Linked DNA regions of Homo sapiens. The protein of the gene in region 2 interacts with the protein of the main gene of each other region in a biochemical or structural test. Each region holds a gene or a part of one and is shown on either strand. Other genes may lie near its edges.

The links. Proteins that work in one complex are often made in the same cells at the same time.
Region 1: of the proteins of RCSD1 (region 2) and MAPKAPK3, one has a biochemical effect on the other in vitro, tested with the Homo sapiens proteins (one study listed by BioGRID).

Annotation. Positions count from the first base shown.
Region 1 is NC_000003.12:50,615,152-50,618,898, reverse strand, and holds the start of MAPKAPK3 (MAP kinase-activated protein kinase 3), read right to left. Parts: upstream 1,749-3,747; 5' UTR 1,658-1,748; intron 1,386-1,657; 5' UTR 1,334-1,385; coding exon 1,115-1,333; intron 1-1,114. UniProt on the Homo sapiens protein: Stress-activated serine/threonine-protein kinase involved in cytokines production, endocytosis, cell migration, chromatin remodeling and transcriptional regulation.
Region 2 is NC_000001.11:167,703,140-167,706,886, reverse strand, and holds part of RCSD1 (capZ-interacting protein), read right to left. Parts: intron 2,224-3,747; coding exon 2,191-2,223; 3' UTR 1-2,190. UniProt on the Homo sapiens protein: Stress-induced phosphorylation of CAPZIP may regulate the ability of F-actin-capping protein to remodel actin filament assembly.

The sequences.
Region 1 (3,747 bases), on a different chromosome or scaffold from region 2:
GCCAACATGGTGAAACCCTGTCTCTACTAAAAATACAAAAAATTAGCTGGGCGTGGTGGCGCACGCCTGTAGTCCCAGCTACTCAGGAGGCTGAGGCAGTAAAATCGCTTGAACCTGGGAGGTGGAGGTTGCAGTGAGCTGAGATTGTGCCACTGCACTCCAGCCTGGCGACAGAGTGAGACTCTGCCTCAAAAAAAAAAAATCTTTTGTAAAATGAGAAGGGCCTTTGCTGTACTTCTAGCCTCCAGGAGCCACTATCCCTGCCATGCTCTACCCATCCATTGGCACAAGCTACAAATGAGTAAAGACCCCAGAGATGACAGATTCAAGGGATTCTGGGTATGGGGTGTGGCCCTAGGCCCAGAACTGTATGCCTTAAGCTGGAACCAGGTACCCGCCCCCAGCATCCCCCTGACCCCCACCATGCCACCTATATCAGCATGCCAGGTCTCCAGGGAGCCTATAGTCTGAGGTGGCTAGATGGCTGGCCCGCCCTCTGCCCAGGAACCAGGGGTGGGTTGGCCCAGGGCCTGTCCCTTTCAACACGGGACCAGCGACTCGTCAGGAGTCTATCAGCAGCCTCCTGAGGCTCCACAGGTGCAGTGGGCATCAGCCTTGTCCTCTGGCCAGCCCTGGGAGGCTCACACCACTCCAGCCCAGACAGGCAGGGGCCACAGGGAAGAAGCAGTCCCACCCAAGCCTTGGTGGGGTCTCAGCTTCCAGCAAAGGGAAACAGATCCATTCCAGTCAGAGGAGCTTCACATGGAAGGGGCAGCCAAGCTGAACAAGAGATCCCCTTTGGGCCTGAACACATGGGTCCAGCCAGAATCCCAGAGTCAGGAGTCACCCCTTCCCTGCTTCCGGATACAGCATCTCTAGCCATAGTGACTCCACCCCTTGCTCACTGGGACACTCAAAGCTTAGCTAGGCTACGCCTCAGTTTCCCCATCTGTGAAGTAGGGAGGACCACAAGCCTGACCTTACAGGACAGTATGACGATGAAACATGTTGCTGAGCATAGGAAGCTTAGCAGGGGCGCTAGACATAGCTTCACTCACAGGCTTCCGCTGTGGACCCTCCAGGATACCCCAGGCCTCAGTGAGGGCTCACTGACCTTCAGGGCACACTTCTGTCCAGTGCGCCGATGGAAGCACTCCAGCACTTTGCCGTTCACACCCAGGCCCAGCACCTGCTTGGACAACTGGTAGTCGTCGGTCACTGCGTACTTCTTGGGCTCCCGCCGCCCCCCCGGAGCACCGCCCAAGCCGGGTCCGCCGGGTGCAACTGGCGGGGGCACAGGGCCCCCCTGCTCCTCTGCTGTTTCACCATCCATGGCCCCCGCGGGGCGCTCAGAGGCGGCCCCAGCCTGGCGCTTCTAGTGGCACCTGGGGGAAAGGGGAAGAGTGAGTCCCGCCCAGACTTTTCCAACACACCCCAGCCTTGGAGCCTCTGAACTGGGCTGGGCTGCGAGCCCGGGGCAAGCTGGGAGTGCGGGACGAACGGCCTGAGAGTACAGACGTGCAGCAAGGGGCGGTGGTCGCGCGGCGGGGTACAAGCGAGCACCGCCCGGGCACGTGTCAAGAAGGGAAGGGGCCGGGCGCCTAATGGCCGCGAGGTCCCCGGAGGAGGCCGCAGAGGGGGCCCAGCGAGGGCGTACCTGGCGGCAACGCACCTTGCTGAGGTACCGGCGAGGGGCAGGAGAGGCGGTCGCGGGAGCTGGCGGCCGCAGAAATCCCAGGGCCGAGAGTCGCGCTGCCGGCGCCCACGTGACCTCCCCCCCCTCCCCACCCCCCCCTCCCCCACTCCCCCACTCCACCCCCCGCTCCCTGCGCGTCATCCCAACTTGGGGCCCCGCTAGGTCAGCCTTAAAGGGCCAGGCGGGCCCCGGCTGGGTCCCGCCCCCGAGCCGGAACAAAATAGGAGGCGTGGCTTCCCGAGGGGGCGGTTACTTCCTCGGTTTCCAGGGACACCCAGGGAGGCCCCTGTACTGGCAGTCCGCTACTGTGCGGGTCCCGGGTTTTACTCGCAACCTAGAACGTGACAGCGCAGGACGTCTTATTTCTCTTGAAAGCTCTCCTTGAGTCGGGTGTTTGCTCTGCACGCTGCCAGGTGGCCCTCCAGTATGGCTTGCTAGGCTTCCGACTTGCCTAGTGTTGGCCAACCCTCAGCGTACTCAACTTTTTAAACATGCCGAGGGAGGTGGCATCTTGTCGTTGTTGAATTCGCCACTCTTTAGTCTCTGGTGGCTCTGGGAGTCTCCAGCACTGGCGACTGCCCCCTTTTTGCAGCTCCCGCTTATGCCCTTGACTCGCTGCTTCCCTTTGGTATATACAGCATCCTGGGGACCAGAAATCCCGAGTTGCCATTTGATCAGATCCGCCAACATTTCACCTTATGGTTTGGGCTTTTGGCGTCGTGTTTAAAAAGTCTCTGTCTCCCATCCGAGTGACAGATATTCTCCATTAGCTTTCTAGTTTTGCCTTGCACATATAAGTCTCTGTTAAGCCCATCTTAGACTACCTTACGTATTTTGAGCCAGTTTTCCCAACACCGGCTGTTAAGCAACTCTCATTTCACAGATGAGGAAACTGGGACCCCTGGGGAGAAAACAACTTGTCTAGAGCCATAGGGAGGGTGGCTGTGGCTGTCTTCTGGGACAGATCTGAACTACTTGCGCACATCACATCACTCCCCCAATCCGGAAGCTGAGGGACCTGAGCGAGCTGGCTCACTTGGAACTGGGAAGGTGCGGCTCAGCGCAGGGGCTCTGCATGGGCCTCTGCTGTCATCTACAGGCCATCTACAGGACTGCAGGTACCAGGACCTCGGTTCCACTCAGAGGCGTCTTCCAGCCATCCTACTCTTGGCTCCGGAATTTAGGCCCAGTGAGCGCCTCCCCCTCAGCCCCTCTGGTTAACACACGCACACTCACGGACCCCTGGGCTGCATGTGCAGGCTCATCAGAGAAGTAGCTCTTGGAAAGATGATCTTCTGTCAATGAATGAGTGAATGAGTGACTGAAAGGGTGCTACAACTTATTAGTGGGTACCCACTGTGTGCAGATGTTGAGTGGAGATGGGGTTGGGGCTCTGCCCCTATTTCTTTCAGGCAACCTTCAAGCTAGCAGTGTTCAGTGAAGCAGGAGGCTCCAGACAATAGCCTCAGCTGGCCATAGTGAACACTTCTTGCAGACCAGATGCTGGGAATGTGCTCTCCCTGCAACCCCCTGACCTTACAGAGCCTAGAGGAGGTCACACTATCCCTTCTGCCCCACACTACAGACACACAGGACAGAAAAGCCCAGAGAGGTTAAGTGACCTGTCTGAGGTCAGCAGCTGTCATGACAGAGCCCCCATTCCAACTCCAAAGCACAACCTCAGGGCTGGGCTCTTATCCTCAAACCATGGCCTCCTCTCCTAGTCCTTTCTGGCTCCTCACACAGCCACATGTGCAAACATACTCTCACACATGTACACATGCAGTCACACCTTTACACATGTGCACACACATGCATATAACACGTATAAACACACATGCATATAACACACATGCACACAGATACACATGCACATGTGCACACACACATGCATTTATGCCCAGCTGGACCCAGGATTGATGTCCCTGAGCCCAACCTGAGAATCTGATTCAAGATCTCAGAGCCTCTTTGAAAGCCCTATGATCTGGAATCTTCTACTGCTGGGGGGAGCCAAAGAAGGCTCTCTGCTCTCTGAAGGCAACTAGTTTGAG
Region 2 (3,747 bases):
CTTTAATCCCAAATTTAGAAGTTCCAGTATCAACCATGCAAATAAAACACCTGATCATGGTTGCTTTGAGAAAGGAGAGTTTTAAGCAGTGGGGCTGCAGCACCAACAAAAATCAGTCCCTGTACTTCATGAGTTCCCTGCCAAGAGCCCCCTTTATTAATGAACAAGCCCTGGGAATGGGGCCTCTATTTTTTTCACAAAATACACCAAATAATGTGACTAACAGGAGACTTGGGGGATAGAAAGGTATTCTGATGCCCACAAGCATGGTGCCGCAATGTCACATTCTTGTCATTTTTACTGCCCCTCTCTCGTCTGCTACTATGTTTAGACCCTCCAGAAGAAAAATGCAGTTTCATTTTTCATATCTAAACCCCATACTTTCTGTTCCATGCCTTCCTCAAGTAAAGTGGCCCTTTTCATCACACATTCACAATCATGCACATATTCACAAAGTACTTGCCCAGATAGTGCATGTGTATAAACAACCCAAAGACATATATAAATAAAACCAAGTATTGTTTAGGGGTAGACTTCTCTGTCAATAAATGGATGGTAGCTAGATTGATAGCAAGCTAGCCAGCTAGATAGATAGACAGACAAGTTTATAGATCTCAAAATAATTGACACACACATCTCCCAAATTCTGCTAATATCCAAAGTTTATCATAGCTATGACAATATCAGTCCCAACCAGGTTACAAGTTTGTTACAAATTACAAACTACTTAAAAACAGTTTTGAAAAAAAATATATCCCAAATATTAACACTAAACACTACCCTGGAGTTAGAAAAACTGTAAATGGGATGAGGAAACTGAGGTACCAGTGGTGACATAAGGCCTTTTTGTCTGACAGACTGTTTTCTGAAGTCAGTGTAGGATGTAGTCTAACAGACCTCCAGAAGAATAATTCTTCCAACTACCAAATCAGCACACTGAGACATTAAAATACTCAAATCAGAATAAGGACCGACCCTAAGTTTAAATGTGTATTTGGATTAACATTTTTCAGCAGGAGTGTATGAAGAGGGGAGAGGATACAAGTCAAAGACTGGGTAGTCAGGCCCCCTGTCCCTTGCAGAATCCCTTACACTCACCAAACAGAATATTAAAGCAAGAGCTACCCAATAAGAAGAGACTAAAGACCCCAACTCACTCCTTTTGTGTTGGGCAGAAGAACCTGGGCTGTGAGTCAAGAAAAGCTTCCCAGGGAAACTAAGAAAAATGTTTTAATTATGTAGCTTGCACATAATGGTACTCAAGGCACCTCCCAGGAAACATCTAATCCATGCTCAAGGATTCTGGAAATGCAAATTCATCCTCACAGGATCAATCGGAGAGCCAGCATTATTCAGGTATCACTGCTTTTCTTTCAGGAGGAGATGCAACGCGGGACATGAAACCTCCTGCCATTCTGCCTCTCCATGGGAGTTCTCCACATTCTCAAGGGTGGGAGAAGGGAGTGAGCCGAGCCAGCGACCTCCCATGGTGGTCACCAACTGGAAAACCACAGGACAGGAAAAGCTCCTGCGAATGGAGCACTTTTTTTTTTTAAATGTTTCAATCATTATCTCTTCTAGTCCAGTGTTTTAAAGACTGGTTGGCCAGTTCAAATTTGGATCAAATTGAAAAGTTGTCTCTAGGGTTTTGATACAATTTAGGGTCTTCTGTAACTTACAGGGTTTCTATTTTATGTTTATGGCCACCTAAAATTAGTTTTTAACTGATATTTGAGAACCGTAAACACTTTAGAACATTAAAAAGGAACTTTACCCAAGCAAAATCTGATCAGCTAAATTAGAGCTCAGTTAAATTAGAGATCAGCTAAATTAGCTGCAGGGATAGGTGGGTGTGGATAGCATCCAGGGCTCCACAGGCTGACCAGTGCCCCTGGGACTCATCACCACAGTACATTGTTTTAAGTAAGTTCTTGTTGTTGAACCAAGTCCATCAAATGACATAAACTCAAGCTGATAAAAGTCTGCTGCCCTCAGATTCAGTCTCCATCTGCAAGGGAACGTTTGGTGTGGAGGCCAGGAAATAATCCACCCTGTGTCTTCAGGCTGACTCCAGACACTCAGCATATTCTGCCTCTGCAATGGCTTCGTCTGCTGCTGCTACAACTGTTGCTGCTACCTGCAAAGAGATGTGTCCAGCAACTTCATCACTGGGGCACAATGAGCTGTTCTTCACATTTTAGTGTCCTGGACAGGAGTGTCATCCTGTGAACAGGGGAGGAAAGAATTAATTAGGAAAATGGTGAGGAAATCCTGACACTCAGCATCCCTCCTTGGGGATGATGGATCTGGCAATAATAGTAACAGTAGGAGTAATAGTAAGAATGATAGTCATAAGAATGCTATGTGCCCAACTTAGTTTTTTTTATGCATTGACTTATTTAATCCTCACAAAAGCAATATGAGGTAGTTACTTTTATTAACTCTATCATAGGTGAGGCAATGAAGGCACAGAGAGGTTATTTCCCCTAGGTCACACAGCTAGTAAGTGGTGAAGTCAGGATTTTAACCCAGGGATCAGAGCTTGAGTTGTCCAGTACTAAGTGACCCTGCCCACCCTTGATGCCTGAGTTCCCTCTATCTTGGCCTCTTACCTATTCACTCATTCCCATTCAATGTGCTCTCCTGAAACACTGCTCAAGATTCTTAGGCAGCATATAAATGGAAAAAGGACAGAAAGAGTTGAAAATAAAAGACCAATACTTGAGTAAAAGGACAGTAAAGTAGCTATTTATTCAACAGTCATTCCGAAGGTATTACTTTGAGATCCTTCTGTGCTAGGAGCTGTACCAGGACTCCAGCCTCGTCCCCATCAGTTCTTTTGCTGAGAAATGGAAACATTTGGGAATGTAACCACAGTACAAGGTGGGGTGTGATGTGGACCATCCTAGTGGATTATACTGAGCAGGGGGGCATTTGTCCTCAGAGCAATCAGAAAAGGCTTGTGGAGGGGAAGATAGAGGTGTGGTGAGAGGACTTCCAGGTACCAGTGAGGGCTGGGTTAAAGTGGGCTGCAGGCAATTTCAGCTGGCAGTGCAGGCATTTGGGCAAAGAGGCTGTGGGAGTGGGTGAGGAGATGCCTTGCCTAATGCAGAATGGTGGAGGGTGCAGGCTGGCTGGAGCCCCGGCCCCACTATTGGGGAGCATGGAGACAGTGAAGGTTAGGCATGTGGCAAAGCCCAGCCCATGGAGGAGCATGAACTCCATTTTCCAGTGGGCAGTATCAAAGGGTTTGGGATAGGAGAGCAGACAACCTATGGTATTTATAGGAAGAGGCATTTGTCACTGATGTGTAGGGTGAGTCTGGAAACCAGGAATTCTGTTAGGAATGAGTTGTGATTGTAGAGATAGAAAAGAAAGGCTAGCACTGGTATCATCATAGAGATGGGGTTGTGCCATGTTGCCCAGGCTGGTCTCCAGCTCCTGGGCTCCAGCGATCCTCATGCCTCGGCCTCCTAAAATACTGGGATCACAGGTGTGAGGCACTGTGCCTGGTCACAATTCCATTATTGATTGAGCTCCCACAAAGCGCTGGTCATGCTCGGGGCTGAGGAGGGTCAAGGAGGAGCGGTGGGTGGGAAAGGGGAAAAGGAGGAGAGACAGAGGGATCTCTGGCAAGGACAGTTAATGTGTCTGAGGGATGATTGAGGTGGGAATGCAGGGAGTGTGTCCCCAAAAGAACTGAGAAGAAATAGGGCCAAGAACTGAGTCTGTTGACCTGCCAGTTAA